Linked DNA regions of Homo sapiens. The protein of the gene in region 1 interacts with the protein of each later gene in a biochemical or structural test. Each region holds a gene or a part of one and is shown in the gene's direction. Other genes may lie near its edges.

Region 1 (7,559 bases):
TTCCTGTGGCATCACTGGTTCTCCAGTGGACACCAGGGGAAGAAGTGGCTCATGGAGCAGGGCCACCCAGCAGACGCACCGACCTCAGCACAGAGGAGCACCCACCCTGGGCTGACTGTGGAAACAGACCAGATGCCAGGCAGCGGTGTTGAGATGGGCAGAGGTGCAGTCAGGAGCACTTCTTCCCTACCCATGTGGGCCGGTCAGAACATTTGAAAGAGGCCCAGCAGATGTGGGACAGCACCCCCCAGTTACCAGCAACACTGAGGTTGGTGTGAGATTCACATGGGCATTCTTGCTCCTCCTCCTAGTCCAGACATTGGAAGGGTTCATTCGAAGCAGAATCTCAGACTTCAGGCTGGGCGCGGTGGCTCACGCCTGTAATCCCAGCACTTTGGGAGGCCAAGGCGGGCGGATCATCTGAGGTCAGGAGTCCAAGATCAGCCTGATCAACGTGGTGAAACCCCATCTCTACTAAAAACACAAAAATTAGCCGGGCATGGTAGCGCACCTATAATCCCAGCTACTCGGGATGCTGAGACAGGAGAATCGCTTGAACCCAGGAGGTGGAGAGGTGGAAGCTGCAGTGAGCCAAGATCACGCCATTGCACTCCAACCCGGGCAACAAGAGCAAGACTCTGTCTCAAAAAAAAAAAAAAAAAAAAAAGAATCTGAGACTTCAGAGCAGACTTACAGAGGTCACAAATATTGATATTACCAATTTTAAATCTTTGCTAACCTGACAGGTAAAAACAAAAGGTTATATCTTTTTTAATTGACAAAATTTGTAAGCTTTCAAAATGGTAAAATTGGGACATTTTATGATTAAAAATACATTCTATACTGTTGCAGTTCAAATATATGTATGAACTATGATAGTTCATACATATATACGAACTGTGACCTTGTTCACATATATATACACACACACATTTGTGTCTGGGTGTGGGTGCCTTAGTCTATTTGGGTTGCTATAACAAAATGCCTTGGCCTGGGTAATTTTTGGACAACAGAAATATATCTCTCACAGCTCTGGAATCTGGGAAGTCCAAGATCAAGGCACCCCACATTCTGCGTCTGAGGACTCTGCTTCATAGATGGTGCCTTCTTGCTGTGTCTCCCCATGGCAGGAGGGACAAACAGGCTGCCTTGGGCACTGATTTCCTTCATGGGGGTGGAGCCTCATGCTATAAGACTTCCTAATGGCCCCTCCTCTTAATACGATCACATTGGGGACTAAGTTTCAAACTATGATTTTGGGGAGACACCAACATTCAGACAACAGTAGAGTGTTTGTATATCTTTCTAACCATCTATCTGTCTATATTTAATTTATATGGCAGATTTTTTCAAACTGTGAGCTGAGACCCATTAGTGGATTGTGAAACGTATTTAGTGCTTTGCGTCTAGCATTAAAAAGAAGACGACGACAGTGGGTGCAGTGGCTCATGCCTGTAATCCCAGCACTTTGGGAGGCCGAGGCAGGAGGATCTCTTGAGCCCAGGAATCTGAGACCAGCCTGGGCAACATAATGAGACCCACCTCTACAAGAAGTGGGGGGGGGGGGAAAGCTGGGGGGTTGGGGGGAAAGCCAGGCTACTGGCACACACCTGGTCCAGCCATTTGGGACGCTGAACTGGGAGAATTGCCTGAGCACAGGAGGTTGAGGCTGCAGTTAGCTGTGATCGTACCACAGCACTCCAGCCTGGGCAATACAGTGAGACCCTGTCTCAAAAAAATAATAATAAAATAAAATAAAAAGACAGAATTTTTTTTAAAAAAAACAGTGCATTCCACATAGTAATGACAAATATTAGTTTTAAAATTTGGCTTTTCCCAATTAAAAAACGAGCAAAGGGCCTGAATTTTTCCAAATAGACATAAAAACGGCCAAGAGGTAATGAAAAGGTGCTCATCGTCAATAACCGTCAAGGAAATGCAAAACAAAACCACAATGAAATATCACCTCACAGTATTAGCATGGCTATTATCCAAAAGACAAGTGTTGGTGAGGGTGTGGGGAAATAGAAGCCTTTGCCCATCGTTGGAGGTACAGCCATTATGGCAAACAGTATGGAGTTTCCTCAAAAAAAACAAAACTGGAACTACCACATGACTCAGCGATCCCTCTGCTGGTTATATATCTACAGGAAATGAAATTGTTTCTTCTGGAGCTCCTCTCAGTTCATTGCAACATTATTCATAACAGCAAGATACAGAAGGAATTCCTGTCATTGGCTACATGTGTGAACCTGGAGGACATGATGCCAAGTTAAATAAGCGAGACAGAGAGAAAGATACTGATGAGCTCACTTATACGTGGAATCCAACAGTCAAATCCTATCTAGAAACAGAGAGTAGAGTGGTGCTTCCTGGGGCTGGGAAAAATGGGGAGAGATATGTAAAAGGAAACACACTCGCAGTTATGTAGCATAAATATGCCCACAGATCTAATGTTCACAGGAGGACTGTTTATTATTATTGTTATTAATTTTTATTTTTATTTATTTATTTTGAGACGGAGTCTCCCTCTGTTCCCCAGGCTGGAGTGCAGTGGCGCGAGTGGCGCGATCTCGGCTCACTGCAAGCTCCGCCTCCCGGGTTCACGCCATTCTCCTGCCTCAGCCTCCCAAGTAGCTGGGACTACAGGCGCCTGCCACTATGCCTGGCTAATTTTTTTGGTATTTTTAGTAGAGACGGGGTTTCACTGTGTTAGCCAGGATGGTCTCGATCTCCTGACCTCGTGATCTGCCCGCCTCGGCCTCCCAAAGTGCTGGGATTACAGGCGTGAGCCACCGCGCCCGGCCTGTTTATTTTTATTTTTTGAGACAGAGTCTCACTCTGTCACCCAGGCTGGAGTACAGTGGCACGATCTCAGCTCATTGCAACCTCCGCCTCGCAGACACAAGCGAGTCTCTTGTCTCAGCCTCCCAAGCAGCTAGAAGTTTAAGAACTTTAAGTGGGGGACCACCTATACATAAACATGCCACCATGCTCAGCTAATTTTTGTACTTTTAGTAGAGACGGGGTTTCCCCATGTTGGCGAGGCTGGTCTCAAACTCCTGACCTGAGGTGATCCACCCACCTTAGCCTCCCAAAGTGCTGGGATTACAGGCGGCGCCAGGACTGTATTTCTTTTTTTTTTTTTTTTTTTGAGACGGAGTCTCTGTGTCGCCCAGGCCGGAGTGCAATAACACGATCTCAGCTCACTGCAACCTCTGCCTCCTGGGTTCAAGCAATTCTCCTGCCTTAGCCTCCAGAGTAGCTTGGACTACAGGCGTGCACCACCACACCGGCCTAAGTTTTGTATTTTATTAGAGATGGGGTTTCACCATGTTGGCCAGGCTGGTCTCGAACTTTTCACTTCAGGTGATCCGCCCGCCTTGGCCTCCCAGAGTGCTGGGATTACCGGCGTGAGCGACCGTGCTCGGCCGCAGGACGACTGTAGATGATATCGTATTGTGTGTTGAAATTTTGCTAAGAGAGTAGATTTTATGTACTCTTACCACACACACACAAAGAGGGTAGTCATTTCACAATGTCTCTATGAAATCATCATGTTGCACACCTTGTATACAACCAAAAATCAATTTTTAGAAATTGGTTTCAATCGTGTATGATATATATGTATATGCACATGTATATGAGATATTATGTATACGTATGTGTGGATATAAGACACATGTTTATGTATAGGTGGTCCCCAACTTAAAATGGCTCAACTTACAATTTTTTGACTTTGTGATGGGTTTATTGTAGCATTAAATACATTTTCAACTTACAATATTTTCATCTTACGATGGGTTTATCAGGACAAAGCCCCATGGTAAGTCCAGGAGCAAATATTTTTGCATACACAGGTATGTGTACATGATACATATTTATATGTATTGATGCTGTATCTATAGATGCATATGTGTGCTATGTATGAGGCAAATCTGCGCATGTCTGTGTACATGGTAAATATTTACGTCCGTCTGTGCGTGTCATAGACATAGAACAGGTGGGATGTAAACAGACGGGCTGGGCCTAGCTGCTCCTTTCCCGCCTCACTCGAGTCTGGCACCAGATTGGCCGCTCCCAGCCCGCTCCGGGTGCCGGCCCCTGCACCCCACCCTGCACCCCGCACCCTGCCCTGCACCCCATCCCGGCCCGTGCCTCGCACTCCACCTTTCCCGCACCCTGCCCCGCACCCAACACCTCCCGCGCCCCTCGCCGCGCTCCCCCAGCACGCACCAGGCCCCGCCCACTCCGCCGCGTGCCCAGCCCGCGTCACCGCCGTCCTCCCCAGGCTCCAGCGCGCCTTGCGGGGCCGCGCACGCTAGCGGAACCGCCGGGAAGAGCGCCGTGCCGTCAATGGCGGAGGCGCGCACGTCTGCAGGGCCGCGCACGTCTGCAGGGCCGCGCACGTCTGCAGGGCCGCGCACGTCTGCAGGGCCGCGCACGTCTGCAGGGCCGCGCACGTCTGCAGGGCCGCGCACGTCTGCAGGGCCGCGCACGCACTGACGGCTGACCGCCATCTTCCCTCCCGAGGCGGCAGTTCCAGGTGCAAGCGCCGGGTTTGCTGCCCGCTGGGCGCCCCTGCAGCGGCCCGAGCTGTGGCCGGCGTGGATGAGGGGCAGGCGAGGCAGGGCCGCCCCTCCAGTATTGCCGCCCCTCCCGCCCCAGGGCAGGGCTGGGAGGGTACAGCCCGGGGGCGGGCTCGGGTCGCCTCCCGGCCGCCGCGTCCTCGCTGCCCCGGGCCGGGCGGGCGGGCGCCGAGAGCCTCCCAGCCCGCCCCGTGCCCCGCCCGCCCGGCTGCTTCCGCGGCGGCGCTGCCCGCACATGGGCTAGGCTGCCAGGATGTTCAGCTTCGAAGGCGACTTCAAGACGCGGCCCAAGGTGTCCCTTGGCGGCGCGAGCAGGAAGGTGAGGGCCGGGCTGGCGGGGCGCCCTCGGCTCGGGGCCTGCGCGGCCGGGGCTCGGGGCTGGGACTCGGGGCTGGACTCGGGGCTGGACTCGGGGCCGAGACTTGGGGCTGGATTCGGGGCCTCCCTGGCGGGGACTCGGGGCTTCCTCGCCGGATCTCGGGGCCGCTCCGGCCGGGACTCGGGGTTGGACTCGGAGCCGAGACTTGGGGCCAGGACTCTGGCTGGGGCTTAGGACTGGACTCGGGGCCTCCCTGGCTGGAACTCGAGGCCGCGCCCGTGGGGGCCTTGCCTGTCCACTGCGCTTCGGGACCCGGGCGCGCTGGCCGTGGCTCCCTTCCATGCAGGAGGCCGGTGAACCCTGGCACGCTTTGTGCCACCCAAGGTGAACTTACCCTTTCTGGGTGTTTCCTTTCAGAAATGCGCTTTCCATGCTCGCTCCCGCATGGCATCAGGGAGTGGCTGCTTTTCGAATGCCACCTGAAGGGCGTTTTCGGTTGTAGAAGGTGAACGGCACGCATTTGCTGATGTCGATAATCTCTAAAGTAGAGGCAGAACGTCTCATGAATAGCCACGTGTTTGAATCCAAGACGAGGGCAATTATTTGCCACCAGCCTCCTGGAAACTGTGGAGAGACTCCGGACTTACATCTGTTGTGATCGACATTAAGTTGTTCGCATGGTAATTGTTTAGGATAAGGGTAGGCAAACCATGACGCCTCTGTTCTAGTCTAGAATTTCTAGCTGTCTGTCCCTGAAGACGGGCATCAGTTGGTTCACTGGAACCGCTAAGTCGTTGAACACTGTGTGGTCTTGTTCCCGCCCCTCCCTTCCCACCCCTTCCCATCATTTCTGAAATGTTCTTTAAAATGCTTCACCTAGTTTTTCTTGTCTATCAGTATATTCTGTATATCACAACCACCAGGTAGGCACATAACGCAGAGTGGGTGCTGGCAGGCCAAGGAGGAACTGCTGTTATTAAGATTGTGCTGTGGGGCTGTGTTTGGTGGTTTCTGAGGTTAGAAGGGAACCTGGGTAAAGAGTTGGGAGAGAAGTGTGCTGATAATTTTTCAGCTTTGAGGTTCGTGTGATGGTGATTGCTTGGAAGTCACTTGTGCTCCAGAACTAAGTACTGTGCAGTTAAGGGTGGTCGTGGTAGCACTTAGGGTCTTCCACGTTAATGAAAATGTTTTATGAGATCAAAGGATTTCTACAGTTAGGAGAGACTTCAGAGAATCTCAGGGCCAAATCGCCTTGCTTACAAGTTCGGAAGGTGAGCTGCAGAACATTTGAAGGAGTGCCCATTCACACAGCAAGCTAGTGGCAGACCATCTGAGACTCCATGCCATTTACACAGCGCCGCGCGGCCTCTGTTGCAGGCAGGAACACCCCACGGGCCACGGATGTTGGTCCCTTTTCACCAAGGAGTGCATCTCTGCTCTGAGGGAGTGAGATTTCTTAACTGTTGATCAGAATCTCAAGGGAAGATAGCACGAGCTGTGTAAAAGAATCACCCCTTTAAAAACAAAACTCTTTTTATTGAGGTATAACTTAAGATACAGTCAGGTTCACAAACACTAAAGAGATCCTTGTGCAAGTGAAATTGAGGAGGAAGGGCGAGAGGGAAGCTGGGTAGGGAAGGAAAAGGCGTCTCAGCTGGAGGCTAGCGTTAACCCCATCTCACCAGGAGCATGCTACAATTGGCCCTAATTGCGGCAGAGGGGTTGGTGGCTGCAGGCTGCTGCCCCTCCGGGATGAGGGTGGGAGTGTGGCACTGCTAACCCTGAGCCGAGGGCCATTCTTCTGGGAGAGAGTGGCAGTAAAGAGCCCTTAGTAGGAACTGGCAGCAGCTGGGGCATGGGTGCCCTGGCCTGGTTAAGGAATCTGGGTGGGGAGCCAGCTGTATGTACAGCTTGAAGGATTTTTGCATATGGACACTCTCCTGTAGATGGAACACCACTCACATCAAAGGAAGACCATCCCCAGCATTCCAGAGGCTCCCCTGCACTCTCACCCATTCATTACAGTCATATGTGACTTAAAGAGGGGGACGCTGTCACTAGTCCAGTTGGTTGTTGTGGGACCGTCCTAGAGTGCACTTAACAGAAACCTATAGCCAGTGTTGCCCACTGCACACCTAGCTGCTTGGTACAGCCCGTTGCCCCTATGCTACACACCTGGACAGCGTGTTTCTGTGCTGAATACTGTAGGCAGCTCTTCATGCAATGGTGAGTGTCTGTGCATCCAAACGTAGATACAGTAAAAATACAAATTATAATCTTATGGGACCACGGTGTATATGTGGTCTGTTGTCGACAGACTGAGAGGTCATTATGCCATGTATGTCTGTAGCCCCACAAAGGTGACTGTCCTTCTGACCTCCATTACTGTAGATGAGCGTTACCTGTTGAACTTCAGGGGCATGGAGCCACTCACCACTTGTCGTTTGTGCCCGGCTGCTTTGGCTTGGCTTCTGTCTGAGAGGTGGACTCCATCCGCCTCGGTGCACGGCATTGCCCTTTGTGTGAACGCACCGTGGCTGATTCTGTTTTCTTACAGACCTTTGCTGTGTGTGCCTTTTGGTGCACATAATACTCTTGTGCTGGGTCCTAGATGATACGCATGTTCAGCTGTTGTGCACACCGCTGCCACA
Region 2 (7,897 bases), on another chromosome or scaffold:
TTGCTCTGTTTTTTGTCTCGTTCTTTTGCCCAGACTGAAGTGCAGTGGCATGATCTTGGCTCACTGCAATCTCCACCTCCCAGCAATTTTCCTGCCTCGGCCTCCAAAGTAACTGGGATTACAGGTGCGCGCCACCACACCTGGCTAATTTTGTATTTTTAGTAGAGACGGGGTTTCACCATGTTATCCAGGCTGGTCTCGAACTCCTGACCTCAAGTGATCCACCCACCTCAGCCTCCCAAAGTGCTGGTATTACAGGCTAGAGCTACCGAGCCCAGCCCATTTCCCTCCTTTTTATTGAGGCAACAGTTACATATAGCAAAGTACAGCTTGATTAATTTTTACAAATATATACCTGTAATCATCACCCAATTCAAGAGTGTGGATTCAATTAGCCAGGTGTGGTGGTGTGTGCCTGTAGTCCCAGCTGCTCAGGTGGCTGAGACAGGAGGATGGCTTGAGCCCGGGAGGTGGAGGCTGCAGTGAGTGGTGATCATGCCACTGCACTCTAGCCTGGGCGACAGAGTGAGATGTTGTCTAAAAAAAAAAAAAAAGTATGTGAATCCAATCCTCAAATGAAACTGCTGTATTCTATTTCCATGACATAACCCGAATCTTCCCATCTTCGCCACCATTCCCCCAATGCAAACCACCCTCATTCTTTTTTCTTTTTTTTTTTCTTTGAGACAGAGTCTCGCTCTGTAGCCTAGGCTGGAGTGCAGTGGCCCATGATCTCCACTCACTGCAAGCTCTGCCTCCCGGGTTCACATCATTCTCCTGCCTCAGCCTCCTGAGTAGCTGGCACTACAGGTGCCCGCCACCACACCCGGCTAATTTTTTGTATTTTTAGTAGAGATGGGGTTTCTCTGTGTTAGCCAGGATAGTCTCGATCTCCTGACCTCATGATCTGCCTGCCTTGGCCTGCGAAAGTGCTGGGATTATAGGCATGAGCCACCATGCCCAGCCTCTTTTTCTTTTTTCTTCTTTTGAGATGGAGTCTGGCTCTGTTGCCCAGACTGGAGTGTATTGGTGTGATCTCGCTCACTGCAATCACCTCCGCCTCCAGGGTTCAAGCAATTCCCCTGCCTCAGTCTCCCGAGTAGCTGGGACTACAGGCGTGTGCCATCACACCCGGCTAATTTTTGTATTTTTAGTAGAGACAGGGTTTCACCATGTTGGCCAGGTTGGTCTTGAACTCCTGACCTCAGGTGATCTCCCAGAAGTGCTGGGATTACAGGCATAAGCCACCACGCCCGGCCCAAACCACCCTGATTCTTGATTGCGTGGACTGTTCAGCACTAAAGAGATCTTTCTAAAAAACCAGGCCAGGTGCAGTGGCTCACATCTGTAATCCCAACACTTTGGGAGGCCGAAGCAGGTAGATCACCTGAAGTCAGGAGTTCAAGACCAGCTTCTGGCCAACATGGTGAAACCCTGTCTCTACTAAAAATACAAAAATTAGCTGGGCATGGTGATGCGTGCCTGTAATCCCAGCTACTTGGGAGGCTGAGGCAGGAGAATTACTTGAGCCTGGGAGGTGGGGGTTGCAGTGAGCTGAGATTGCACCACTGCACTCCAGCTTGGGCAACAGAGCAAGATTCCATCTCAATAAATAACTGAATTAATTAAATAAATAAAATAAAATAAACTGATCTGGCTGGGCGCAGTGGCTCACACCTGTAATCCCAGCACTTCGGTAGGCTGAGGCGGGTGGATCACCTGAGGTCAGGAGTTCAAGACTATCCTGGCCAACATGGTGAAACCCCATCTCTACTAAAAATACAAAATTTTGCCGTGTGTGGCGGCGGGTGCCTGTAGTCCCAGCTACTCGGGAGGCTGGGGCAGGAGAACTGCTTGAACCTGGGAGGCAGAGGTTGCAGTGAGCCGAGATCACACAACTGCACTCCAGACTGGGCAACAGAGGGATACTCTGTCTCAAAAACAACAACAAAAACTGATCAAGTTACCTTCTTGCTTTACGCCATCCAGTGTTCCCTGGCGTTAGTGTTCCCACATAAAATTAGTGTTCCCATATAAAATACGAACTCCTTGCCTTGGCCTGAAAGGTTTCAAGTAATCTGGCCCCTGTCCACCTCTCTGTCCTCATTTCCTCAGTGGAAGACTGATCTCATTCCATTCCAGCCATAGCCCGCCCTCCCTCTCTCCCTCCCTCCCTTCCTCCCTTCCTCCCCTCCTTTTTTTTGAAACAGGGTCTACTTTGTCACCCAGGCTGGAGTGCAGTGGTGCGATCACAGCTTACTGCAACCTCTGCCTCCCAGGCTCACCTCTGCCTCCCAGGTTCAAGAGATTCTTCCACCTCAGCCCCCCAAGTAGCTGGGACTACAGGCGTGTGCCATCACACCCGGCTGATTTTTGCATTTTTTGTAGAGACAGGGTTTCACCATGTTGCCCAGGCTGGTCTTTAACTCCTGAGCTTATGTGATCCACCCACCTCAACCTCCCAAAATGCTGGGATTACAGGCATGAGCCACTGCGCCCAGCCAGCCACAGCCTTTTCTTTTCTTTCTTTCTTTCTTTCCTTTTTTTTGAGATGGAGTCTCGCTCTGTTTCCCAGGCTGGAGTGCAGTGGTGCCATCTTGGCTCACTGCAAGCTCCGCCTCCCGGGTTCACGCCATTCTCTTGCCTCAGCCTCCCGAGTAGCTGGGATTACAGGCGCCCACCATCACGCCCGGCTAATTTTTGTATTTTTAGTAGAGACGGGGTTTCACCTTGTTAGCCAGGATGGTCTCGATTTCCTGACCTTGTGATCCACCCGCCTCAGCCTCCCAAAGTGCTGGGATTACAGGCGTGAGCCACCGTGCCCGGCCCAGCCACAGCATTTTCTTAAACACATCAGGCTGGTTCCCACCTTGAGACCTTTTTTTTTTTTTTTTTTTTTGAGGCAGAATCTTGCTCTGTCGCCAGGCTGGAGTGCAGTGGCGCGATCTCGTCTCACTGCGAACTCTGCCTCCCGGGTTCACGCCATTCTCCTGCCTCAGCCTCCTGAGTAGCTGGGACTACAGGTGCCCGCCACCACGCCCGGCTAATTTTTTTGTATTTTTAGTAGAGACGGGGTTTCATCGTGTTAGCCAGGATGGTCTCGATTTCCTGACCTCGTGATCCTCCTGCCTCGGCCTCCCAAAGTGCTGGGATTACAGGTGTGAGCCACCGCACCCGGCCACCACCTCGGGACCTTTGCACCTGCTGCTCCCTCTGTCTGGGAAGCCCTTCCCTCAAAACTTTGCCCAGCTGCTTCATCTGTTGAGGTCTTAGCCCAAATGTCTCCTCCTCAAAAAGTGCCCTCCCTGACCTTTGCTGAAGTTGCCCCTCCACGCTCCAGGAACTCTCTATTTTATTTTCTGAAGAGCTCTTATTTTCCTTATCTAATCACTTTCTTCCTTCTTGCTGATTTCCTACACTAAAATGTAAAGTCCCCAGGGGGCAGGGGCCGTTTGTGTCTAACACCCTGCTGCGTTGCATCCTTGTTGTACAGATCTGCACTGTCCATTATGATAGCCACTACCCATAGTGGGCTATTTAAAGTTAAGTTAATGAAAAATAAATATAATTAAGAATTTGGTTCCCCAGTCACACTAATTCCATTTCAAGTGCTCAATAGCCACATGTGGCTAGTGGCTATCATATTAGATACTATACTGAAGATGTAGAACATTTTCAACATTGCAGTGTTCTATTAGCTTTGGTCTAGAACCTACGTACCTCATAATAACAGGTGTTCAAGGGGGGTGTCAATTTAATAAAGATTTTTTTTTTTTTTTTGAGACGGAGTCTCGCTCTGTCGCCCAGGCTGGAGTGCAGTGGCGCGATCTCCGCTCACTGCAAGCTCCGCCTCCCGGGTTCACGCCATTCTCCTGCCTCAGCCTCCCGAGTAGCTGGGACTACAGGCGCCTGCCACCACACCCGGCTAATTTTTTTGTATTTTTAGTAGAGACGGGGTTTCACTGTGTTAGCCAGGATGGTCGTGATCTCCTGACCTCGTGATCCGCCCGCCTCGGCCTCCCAAGTGAATAAAGATTTCTTTTATCCTTATCTTATGAGTGAGAAAAACATAGCCCAGAGAGGTTGTTTCATTATCCCAAGGTCACACAGCCAGGAAGGAGCCTAGCAGAGATTTGAAGCCAGGCTTGTCTGGCTCTGAAGCACACACTACTCCCTTTCCCATCCAGCAGCCTCCTGGCTGTTTATGGAAGGATTGCTGCGCAGGATATTAAGGGATCTGCAGTCAATCCTGACTCCATCCCAGATTCATTGGCTGTGTGACCCTCAGCAAATCCCTTTGCTTCTCGGCCTCAGTTGCATTGCTAAAAAAATGAAGAAACTGACCCTGCCGTCCTGAGGGTTGGGGATGCGAGGCAGGGGGCCTTGTGTGACTCAGTTCATTCCCCAGATCCTGTCTGGCTCAGGGGCGGGCAAGCATCGTGGGTGAGGGGTCTTTTGGTTGGCCTGACCAGCTTTGGTTGATAGCTCCTGTTTCTTGAATGCCTACAGATGAGAAAGCGGAGGTAAAGTAACTTGGCCAAGGCTACACAGCAGAAGAGGCAGAAGTGGGATTCGAACCTGAGACTCTATGATATTACGTCCATGCCGCAAGACAGAGCTGGCACCTACGGGAATAACAAGGAGGTGGTGGCAGGGTAGTGAGCTCCCCGTCTCTGGGGGTGTGTGCAATCCGGCGCTGCGCTGTCAGCAGGGCAAGGGCTGGGGCCGGGGCCAAGACCACCAAGCCAGGCCCAGGCCCGCCCGCCTCCCGCGGCCGCCACGGCCAAGGCGTGAGCACGGGGCGGGGCGGGAGCTGCTATTTCTGTCTGGTGAGCGCAGCCCGCGCAGCTGGCGAGGGAGGGGGCGCCCGCGCCGCCATATTCCCTCCCGCCGGCCGGCTCCGCGGCGCGCAGCCACCATGAGCACCGCCGCCTTCCACATCTCCAGCCTCCTGGAGAAGATGACGTCCAGCGACAAGGACTTCAGGTGCAGCCCGCCGCCGGCCCCCTTCTCTCCTTCCCGCTCTGAAGCCGGGGGCCTTCTTCCCCTCTCGAAGCGCCAGCCCATCCCCCATGACCATGCAGCCCCCTGCCTCTTCTCTCTTCTCCCTGCATTAAGCTGCCCCCCTCCCCACAGGCCCACTCCTGCCTCGTGGTCCCCACTGGAGCTCCGGCCGTTCTCCCCTAGGGGCCGTCCTGCCCCTCCGCGACTCCAGTCCCTGCTTCGTCTCCCACCGTGCAGGCTTCAGCCCTACCTCTCACCCCCGATCAGAGCCCCGGCTCCACCCCTCTGCACCCTGCCTCGGCCTCTCCTCCCTCGTGTGTGTCCGGCCCCCTTCTTCCCCCGCAGCTGATGCCCCAGCGCCCCCTCCCCCCCGCCCCCACCACCTTCAGCGAGCCCACAGTGAAGCCCTACGCCTCTCCCTGGGGACCCCAGCACCTGCCTCTCCTCCGCATTGAACCCGGACCCTTCCCGGGACCGCAACCCCCAGCTGACTTTCTCACTGGCACCCTCAGTGATGCCTCCTTCTCAACATCACCCGGACCCCTCCCTCCCCGTCTCCCTCCCCTCCTGCGATTGTTCAGACCCAGCCTAAAGGAGGGGGCTGGGCTGAGTCTGGCTTTCCAGTCACAGGTAGGTGATGGTTGGGGTGGGACCTTCTAGGTTTTGTGTGCCACTCTCCTTCCCCACTCCCTTTTTCCTTCTTTCCCCCTCTCACAGCATCACAGAACCACAGGAATAGAGCTGAAAAGAACGGTGGAAACATCTGGTCCAATGAGTTTCCACCTGCATTCCCTGGGGAAACTGAGGCCCAGGGAGGAAAAGGGATTGGCCCGTGGTCTCATGGCCAGTTCTGGCCCCTCCAGCTGAAAGAAGACCTTGGAGACTCAATGAACATTTTTTCACTTTGTCCCCATTTTACAGATAGGGAAACTGAGTCTCAGAGACATGAAGGGCGTAGGTTCAGTCACAGCGAGGAAGTGGGAGACTTAGTCCAAATCCAGGCCAGTCTAATACAGAGGCCAAGATCTTAGTGAGGTCCTCTGATTCCAGCCCCCTGACAGGTGAGGAGACAGACCTGCTCTGGTGGTCTGACTCCTACTCTTCTCCTGCAGCCCATTCCTCAGTACCCCTCAAGAGCCCCCCCACATTAATAGAGCCTGGGATCCAAGGTCTTGGCTTCAGATCCCAGCTGCCGTCACTCACTGGCCGTGTGACCATGGACAAGTAACTTAACCCCCATGAGTCTCCCTGTGCTTCTGTTTCTATAAAATGGGGATAACAGAACCCATCTCTGAGGGTTGGGGTAAGGATTAAATAAGATAGTACATGTGAAATGCTCAGGTTCATGGCAGGCACTAGGTCGGTGCTTCATAAACGGACACTGTTATGATTCTGTGCACATCCAAAATCTGCCACGCCCTGTCCCCTCTCTAGACCTTCACTAGGGGGATTCTTTGCTCTCCCTTGACCTCCTCCCTTCATCTGACAGCTCCTATAACTCTTGACCCCAGGCAGGATTAGGTACCTCCTTTCAGCTCCCATCATGCCTCCCCTCATGTTTCTGCTAGATCACTTTTCAGCCCTGGGAGACCCTGAGCTCCTGGGCCACTGGGACTATGCACTTCCTCTTAGTGCCCCAACACCTGTGCTGAGTACACGGTAGGTGCTTAGTGAATGTTCGCTGGGTCCCAGGCTCCCTACTGTGCACCCCACGTGTAATCTCAGTCCACCCATGGGTGGTAGTGATTGTTCTTCCTGTTTTCCGGAGGCTTGGAGGAGTGCAGTGACTTGCCCAAGGTCACAGAGCTGGCTAGTGGCCTAGGGGATTTGCGCTAGTGTCTCTCAGGCCTCTGGTCCAGTCTCTGGGAGAGGGAGTTGGCCCTGCCAGCTACAGCCCGAGAAGCCCTTTCAGCCTGTCTCTGCCAGTGGCCTGGAGAACACTTAAAACCACCCCAAGCATGTGAGAATGGTGTCTATTTTTAAAGTCCGAATACCAGGGTGCTGGGTCCTGCAGACCAGCTGTCCAGGCGTCCGTGTGGCCAAGGGTTTCAGCTGAGTTGCCTCTAGGGTTTCTCTGTAATGAAACTGAGACTGTCCTCTGGTTCCTGGAGCGGGGCAGCGACTGCAAATGGGGGTCCCAGGTGGGGTGGAGGGAGACCTTTGTTTCCTGTTCTTCCTGGGCCCTGGCTTTATGGGCAGGAGGTGCCCCATTACCACGGAGGCTCCAGCAGTCAAAACGAGTACCCTTGCAGGTCTTGCAGGAATTACCAAGTCATTTCTTGAAAACACAGTAGTATTATTGGTTGAAAAGCCAGGAGACCTGTGTGGTGGGCTGGTTTTCCGCCCAGTTTGCTGTTACCGTAGGCAGTTTGTGCAGCCTCCCTGAGCCTAGTTTTCTTACTACCTCATGCTAAGAGCTAGATTGTCCTATTGAAACCTCCCAAGGATACTATGAGGTAGGGCAAAGAAAAGTTCCCATTTTATATATAGAAAATCTGAGGCCCAGAGAAAAGGAGGTAGTTGCCCAATGTCACCTAGTTGATAAATGGCAAGACTAGTAAGTATACTCACTTAAAGCCAAACTTTGGTGCTCAAGCTCTTATCCACCAAATTATATACTTTTCCTTCTCTCTCCCATCCCTACACACATACACGTATAAAACATGGCTTGCTTTCTCCGAGAGCTAGTGTCTGCAGGAACCAGGGGTGTCTGAAATGCTGAGGCATACTTCAGAAGAGTTGGTTTCTGAATTCGGACTATTTGGCTGTAAGTTCTGTTAAGGGCTAGCTCTCTCACTACCTCTCCTCCTGCTCTCACCCTCCCTGACAAAGCCCTCTGCAGACCTGTTCTTTGTTGAGCCTGGAGTCCCAGAGATAAACCTGATGAGCCTCT
Region 3 (7,104 bases), about 16 Mb from region 1:
ACGAGGATACCTGTCTCCAGATCTCAGTAAGGTACGGAGTAACTGTCCAAAAGCCATGAAGAGATTAATGGCAGAGTGCCTCAAAAAGAAAAGAGATGAGAGACCACTCTTTCCCCAAGTAAGTAAAAGCTTCATGCTATCCAAAAGAACAGACTAACATTCATAGACAGATTTCTGAGCACTTTTTTGGGCACACAGTGTGTATTTCATGAGTTTGGATTCTATGTGCAGACTCCAGACAAGAAAACACATTAAGATGGCTTCATGAGGGTTGAGCAGTGGCACACCTAGAAATTTTGGGTCCTAATACAAAATATTCAGAAAGACTTTGCATTTGTCCATCAGTTCTCAGACTTCTCAGTCTTTGAACTCTTTTACACATTTAAAAATTATCGAAGACCCCCCCCCCCACAAAGAGCTTTTGTTTATATAAGTTTTAATTCCTTATTAGAAATTAAAACTATTTTTTAAAATATTAATGAATTAAACATAGTAAACCAATATGTTAAATAATATTTAGAAAAAAACAGTTCTATTATCTAAGAGAAAAAAATTAGTGAGGAGTTGTATTGTTTTACTTTTTTTGCAAATCCCTTTGCAAAAAGAAGACAGCTGGATTCTCCGCTTTTGCACTCACATTGCAATATCTCACATCATGTCACCCCTAAAAACTCTACTTAACGCTTGTAAAATAATGACAGTAAAAAAGGCAAATGATATCTTATTGTTATTACAAAAATAGTTTTGACCTCGTGGATCCCCTGGTGGTCCACGGACCACATTTTGTGAACCACTGCTTTATTTCTTCTTGGTGGTAAACAGATTCAAGCTTTCCTTTAATACTGGGTCTTTTTGAGGGGCATTTCTGCCTGATGCAGAAAAAGGAAAAGGCAGTAAGGCATTTGTCAGCTCAGCCTGCCTTTACCTAATTCTTGATAACTCACTGCTTTTTTTTTTTTTTTTCCATATTGGAAGGATAAAGCCTTAAGTTAACAAATTTCAAAAAGAACTGTAACTAAGGCCAGGTGTCGTGGCTTACAAATCTCAACACTTTGGGAGGCCAAGGCAGGCAGATCAGTTGAGGTCAGGAGTTCGAGACCAGCCTGGCCAACATGGTGAAAACCGTCTCTACTAAAAATACAAAAATTAGCTGGGCATAGTGGCAGGAGCCTGTAATCCCAGCCACTCAGGAGGCTGAGACATGAGAATCGCTTGAACCCAGGAGGTGGAGATTGTAATGAGCTGAGATGACACCACTGCATTCCAGCCAGGGCAACAGAATGAGACTCTGTTTAAAACAAAACAAAACAAAAATATCTAAATACCTCAACTAGCTTACAGAGTTTAGCTGTAGTAGATATTATAATATAAATGCAATGTTTTCTGATACTTAGGGAGCTCCTGATAGCACTGGATAAATATGCCTTGATGAATCAGTACAGTTTCAAGTGGGAAGTGCTATTTCCCATAGTAACCCTGCTACCATAATTACTGGAGTGTTCATGTATGAACTCTTAGGCCTTTGAATGCCCAGTCCTAGCTGAGTAACTCAGACAGAAGTCAATGTTACAGGAATTAGATTCACTCATCCTTTATTTTTAAATCTAAAAAATGTTATTCTTCTCTAAAGAATGAAAGAAGATAAAATTGATGGTTTTAACAAGTCTGTCAGGGTGTTGCCTAAGAAAAGAAAGGGAAAGCTAAGTGGTTGGCTGGGTAGATATAAGTTTCATTTATCAGGTTTCAAAGTTACTGTTCCTTTGAGGAAGAGTTTTTATTTTTTCTTTTTATTTTTTTATTTGTTTCTCTAAGTCAGGAAACCTCTGGGTTGAGACTGTCCTGGTGAGAGACAAGTGCTGCTGAGCAGCTTCAGCATGACCCTGTCCCATGTTCTCTTTTCACGTCATGGTGCTCGGGTTCTTACTTAGAATGTTTATTGACATTAATAATGCAAAGTACATCCTTAGGCCCACTTTTTAAATGATATTAAAAGGGGCAAAATGCTTAGCTCCATACTTCTAAATATAACATTTCATTAATTACATGGTTTCAAAAACTGAAGTGCATATGTGAACTTTCCAGATTATTGGAGGCTATCCCTTTAAAGTGTTATTTTGAAATTTTTGTTACAGGATATCTTTTCACACCATACTGTTATATGCCACATAAATTTTAGATGGCTGAAGATCTATATGTTTTATAAAATATGAAATCATTTTTATAGTTTTGAGGTAGGAAAGGCTTTCTTAATAGACAAAATTCAGAAGGAAAAAATTAGCAGATGTGAGTACATTAAAAATTTTTAAACTTCTATATAGAAAAATAACATTGAAAGATAAAAAGAATAATTGTAGCATATATAACAAAAAGTAAATGTTTATAATATACAAAGGACTCCTCCAAATCAATAAGTAACAAACAATAGAAAATGGGCAAAGGGAATATGAACAGGTGATTCACATAATAAATACAAATGGTGAATGAACTTAGGAAAAGGTGTAAATATTTCCATGGCAGTCAGTAAAATGCAAAGACACAACAGTGAAATATATTTTAATTTCGCCTCTCAGGTTGGTAATATCCAGCACTGGGAACAATGTTGGGAAGTGAGGAGGAGCATTCTATGTAAAATTTTAAAGGTTTGGTGGAAGGCAGCATTTTGGAAGACCTTGGTAGAATCCATAAATTCAAAATACTTCTAAAAATCTGTGCTATGTAACCTATTTCATAAGTATTCAGATATATATAAGAATGTTTACTATAATAAGAAAAAGACATTAAGATTAAGTTAGTTTTGTATTGATGACATGGATATTGGTGAGAGAAAAAGAAAACAAGACAGAAAACAAAATGTAGTATGATACCTCATTTTTTTTTTTTATAGGCTGGGCCTGTTCTGTTGCCCAGGCTGGAGTGCAGTAATATGATCATAGCCCACTGCAGCCTCAAACTCCTGGGCTCAAGCGATCCTCTCACCTCAGCCTCCTAAGTAGCTGGGATTGCAGGTGCCTATCACCACACCCAGCTAATTTCTTGTGGTGGTGGTGGTGGTGGTTGTAGAGATAGATTCTCACTATGTTGCCCTGGCTGGTCTTGAACTCCTGGCCTCAAGCGATCCTCTCGCCTCAGCCTCCCAAAGTGCTGGGATTACAGGCGTGAGCCCCAGTGCCCAGCCTGATAACCACTTTAAAAGGTTAAACAGAGGCCAGGCACGGTGGCTCACGCCTGTAATCCCAGCACTTTGGGAGGCCGAGGCAGGCGGATCACCTGAGGTTGGGAGTTCGAAACCAGCCTGACCAACATGGAGAAACTCTGACTCTACTAAGAATACAAAATTAGCCAGGCGTGGTGGCACATGCCTGTAATCCCAGCTACTCGGGAGGCTGAGGCAGGAAAATCATTTGAACCCAGGAGGCGGAGGTTGCGGTGAGCCGAGATCGCACCATTGCACTCCAGCCTGGGCAACAAGAGTGAAATTCCATCTCCAAAAAAAAAAAGTGGTGTTCAGGTGGGCCTTGTTTTCATGTATGTATTTTTATACATAAAAAAAGGTACTGAAGAGGCCAGGCGCAGTGACTCACACCTGTAATCCCAGCACTTTGGGAGGCCAAGGTGGGTGGATCAGTTGAGGTTAGGAGTTCGAGACCAGCCTGGGCAAAATGGTGATACCCGTCTCTACTAAAAATACAAAATTATCCGGGCGTGGTGGCACACGCCTGTGATCCCAGCTACTCGGGAGGCTGAGGCAGGAGAATCGCTTGAACCTGGGAGGCGGAGGTTGCAGTGAGCTGAGATCGCGCCACTGCACTCCAGCCTGGACAATAGAGTGAGACTCCATCTCAAAAAAAAAAAAAAAAGGTACAGAAGAAAGTATAGACTCTAACAGTGGTTATCCCTGGAGAGCAGGATTTGAGAGCCTTATACTCTTTATACATTTCTATAGTATTTTAATTTTTATTTGCATGTTATACTTGGAATTTACAATTTTTTGCAACTGCTTACTTCTTTGTCTTATACTAATCATCATAAAGATTACTTTTTAAAAAAAATTTAACTTTTAAAAACAATTTTCAGCCAGGCATGGTGGCTCATGTCTGTAATCCCAGCCCTTTGGGAGGCCGAGGCAGGCAGATCACCTGAGGTCAGGAGTTTGAGACCAGCCTGGCCAACGTGGTGAAACCCTGTCTCTGCTAAAAATACAAAAATTTAGCTGGGCATGGTGGTGCGCTCCTGTAATCCCAGCTACTCAGGAGGCTGAGGCAGGAGAATCGCTTGAACCCAGGAGGGGGAGGTTGCAGTGAGCTGAGATTGTGCCACTGCACTCCAGCCTGGTTGACAACAGCGAGACTCCGTTTCAAAAAAAAAAAAAAATTGGTATCTCAGGACAATAACAAAAGTAATAATAATAGCTGCTAAGGTTTTATTGAGTGCTTATTATAGGCCAGGCATTATGCCAAGCCCTTTAAACATGTTTCATGATTATGAACATGCATTATCATGCTGTATGCCTTCAAGGATTATAACCTGTTTCTTTGTGCCTTAAAATTGTGAATTTCTGCATTTTATATATTGGGGTCTATTTGTCGAGTTCTCCTATCTTTGCTCTTGGGTTGTCCCCTGTCACTTCTCATGTGCTACTAGCACTCTGGGTCTGTGAGGTTCTGCTTTCAATTAGGTGTATGTAAAACATTTCCCATGGCTAGGTTTCTTTAAAGGGCAAGTAGCTGTGATAATTCTGTTTAGAGATAGTCATAAAGTGCTTTACTTATTTATACTCCATCTTCTTCCCAAAAGAGACTTGTGGTCTATAACAAAAAGGTATAAAATTGGTTTTAAATTTCTATTATTTACTGTTTCAAGACTAACAAATGATCTAAAATATAAATAAAAGCTGACTAAGAATTACTCTCCCCATTTAATTTACAGAGAGAGTTTCTTCTTAAGAAAAAATACCAATTATTTACAAATATTTTCCCAAGCATTTATGACAATGCTGAAAACAATGTAAGATTTCAGGTGCTTTCTTGTAAAGTGTGATGGGACTCTTAAAGATTTATACCACCCAGATTTTCATTCTTCTTTCTGTTTTTTCTTTTTCTTTCTTTCTTTTTTTTTCTTTTTTCTTTTTTTTTCTTTTTTTTTTCTTTTTTTTTTTGTAGATTCTCGCCTCTATTGAGCTGCTGGCCCGCTCATTGCCAAAAATTCACCGCAGTGCATCAGAACCCTCCTTGAATCGGGCTGGTTTCCAAACAGAGGATTTTAGTCTATATGCTTGTGCTTCTCCAAAAACACCCATCCAGGCAGGGGGATATGGTGCGTTTCCTGTCCACTGAAACAAATGAGTGAGAGAGTTCAGGAGAGTAGCAACAAAAGGAAAATAAATGAACATATGTTTGCTTATATGTTAAATTGAATAAAATACTCTCTTTTTTTTTAAGGTGAACCAAAGAACACTTGTGTGGTTAAAGACTAGATATAATTTTTCCCCAAACTAAAATTTATACTTAACATTGGATTTTTAACATCCAAGGGTTAAAATACATAGACATTGCTAAAAATTGGCAGAGCCTCTTCTAGAGGCTTTACTTTCTGTTCCGGGTTTGTATCATTCACTTGGTTATTTTAAGTAGTAAACTTCAGTTTCTCATGCAACTTTTGTTGCCAGCTATCACATGTCCACTAGGGACTCCAGAAGAAGACCCTACCTATGCCTGTGTTTGCAGGTGAGAAGTTGGCAGTCGGTTAGCCTGGGTTAGATAAGGCAAACTGAACAGATCTAATTTAGGAAGTCAGTAGAATTTAATAATTCTATTATTATTCTTAATAATTTTTCTATAACTATTTCTTTTTATAACAATTTGGAAAATGTGGATGTCTTTTATTTCCTTGAAGCAATAAACTAAGTTTCTTTTTATAAATTTTGAGTGCAGGTGACCAAAAATATTGCTGAGGAGTGGCACGTTTGACATGAGTAAAATGTCTTAACTTCGGATTTTTAGCGGGAAAATGTTATAAATTGGAGTTTCTTTTAAATAGCTTTTTTTAAAATACATTAAGGATGTCTCGCTCATGTAGAAGTCAAATTTTGTTGCAAACGCATTGCTCCCTTCACACCCAATCTCTCCCCTGCAAAAAATCTTCACAGAATTCTGTGAGAACTTTTAGGTGTGTTTTTCTTTGAGATACCTCTGGTTGCCAAACACCAGGTAATAGATTTTTTAAAGTTGTTATTAGATTATTCTTACCTCTCATGATGCATATTTTAGCAATCACCTTATCATTGTGTCTCATGTTCTGTCCTCCTTATATTCTTTGCCCAGCAAGATTCTACTTATGATGAATGAATGCTCTTCTCCTTTTTTCATTCAATGGTATGAAGTATTTGTTAGGGTTCTTTAGTACTTACACTTTGTTGTGTAGAAAATGACTGTAATGTGGTGGTCAGTGTATTCTTACTGTGATTCAGAGGGAATCAAAAGTAGAAAGCAACAGCACGTGGTCCTATCAAAGATTTGGCCATCTCTGCTTCACTGTCAGCCTCTTAACTATATCTTCACTTACTCAATTTGGTTTTGTCATGATTTTTAAATGTAGCCAATAGATCAAGGTTCTTCCAGTAAACACATATCTGCATAAATGCCTCCTTGAAGTCAATAAAGAAGGAAATTGAGAAGACTTTAAATTAATGATAATTTAGTTTTTAAGTACCCACAAATAAATTTTTGAAACATTTTCTTTATTTGAATACTTAGATGTCATCCAGGAAAATCACTCAATAATAATTACGGCAAATCTTTAACCCCTCATTTGGGTAGCTTAAGATAAGTAATGCCATTATGAATCAGAATTGATTCATGACTTTAGTTAAGAAAATGAAAAGGAACATTTCACGTATTTTTAAAAATGATACTAAGGAATAAAGAAGTACAACTATTGGAAAATATCTAAGTATATGATTTTTAAATCCTCCAGTGGCATTAAATATATGATTATTAGTAATTGTTAGATAGGGTTTTATTCATTCACAAATAGAAGACTAGCAAGCATGTAACTAACAAAGTTTTTACAAAATTGACTTTGTGGAATGCTCCAAATGTTTGGCCA

What was found.
Region 2: of the proteins of UBE3C (region 1) and CAND2, one has a biochemical effect on the other in vitro, tested with the Homo sapiens proteins (one study listed by BioGRID).
Region 3: the proteins of UBE3C (region 1) and BRAF form a complex in vitro, tested with the Homo sapiens proteins (one study listed by BioGRID).

What each region holds. Positions count from the first base shown.
Region 1 is NC_000007.14:157,134,431-157,141,989, forward strand, and holds the start of UBE3C (ubiquitin-protein ligase E3C), read left to right. Parts: upstream 1-4,495; 5' UTR 4,496-4,842; coding exon 4,843-4,908; intron 4,909-5,359; exon of another isoform or gene 5,360-5,585; coding exon of another isoform or gene 5,586-5,588; intron 5,589-7,559. UniProt on the Homo sapiens protein: E3 ubiquitin-protein ligase that specifically catalyzes 'Lys-29'- and 'Lys-48'-linked polyubiquitin chains.
Region 2 is NC_000003.12:12,791,803-12,799,699, forward strand, and holds the start of CAND2 (cullin-associated NEDD8-dissociated protein 2), read left to right. Parts: upstream 1-4,877; 5' UTR 4,878-4,918; coding exon 4,919-4,986; intron 4,987-5,403; exon of another isoform or gene 5,404-5,634; intron 5,635-7,897.
Region 3 is NC_000007.14:140,732,826-140,739,929, reverse strand, and holds part of BRAF (serine/threonine-protein kinase B-raf), read left to right. Parts: coding exon 1-118; intron 119-5,159; coding exon 5,160-5,333; 3' UTR 5,334-7,104. UniProt on the Homo sapiens protein: Protein kinase involved in the transduction of mitogenic signals from the cell membrane to the nucleus. Phosphorylates MAP2K1, and thereby activates the MAP kinase signal transduction pathway. Phosphorylates PFKFB2.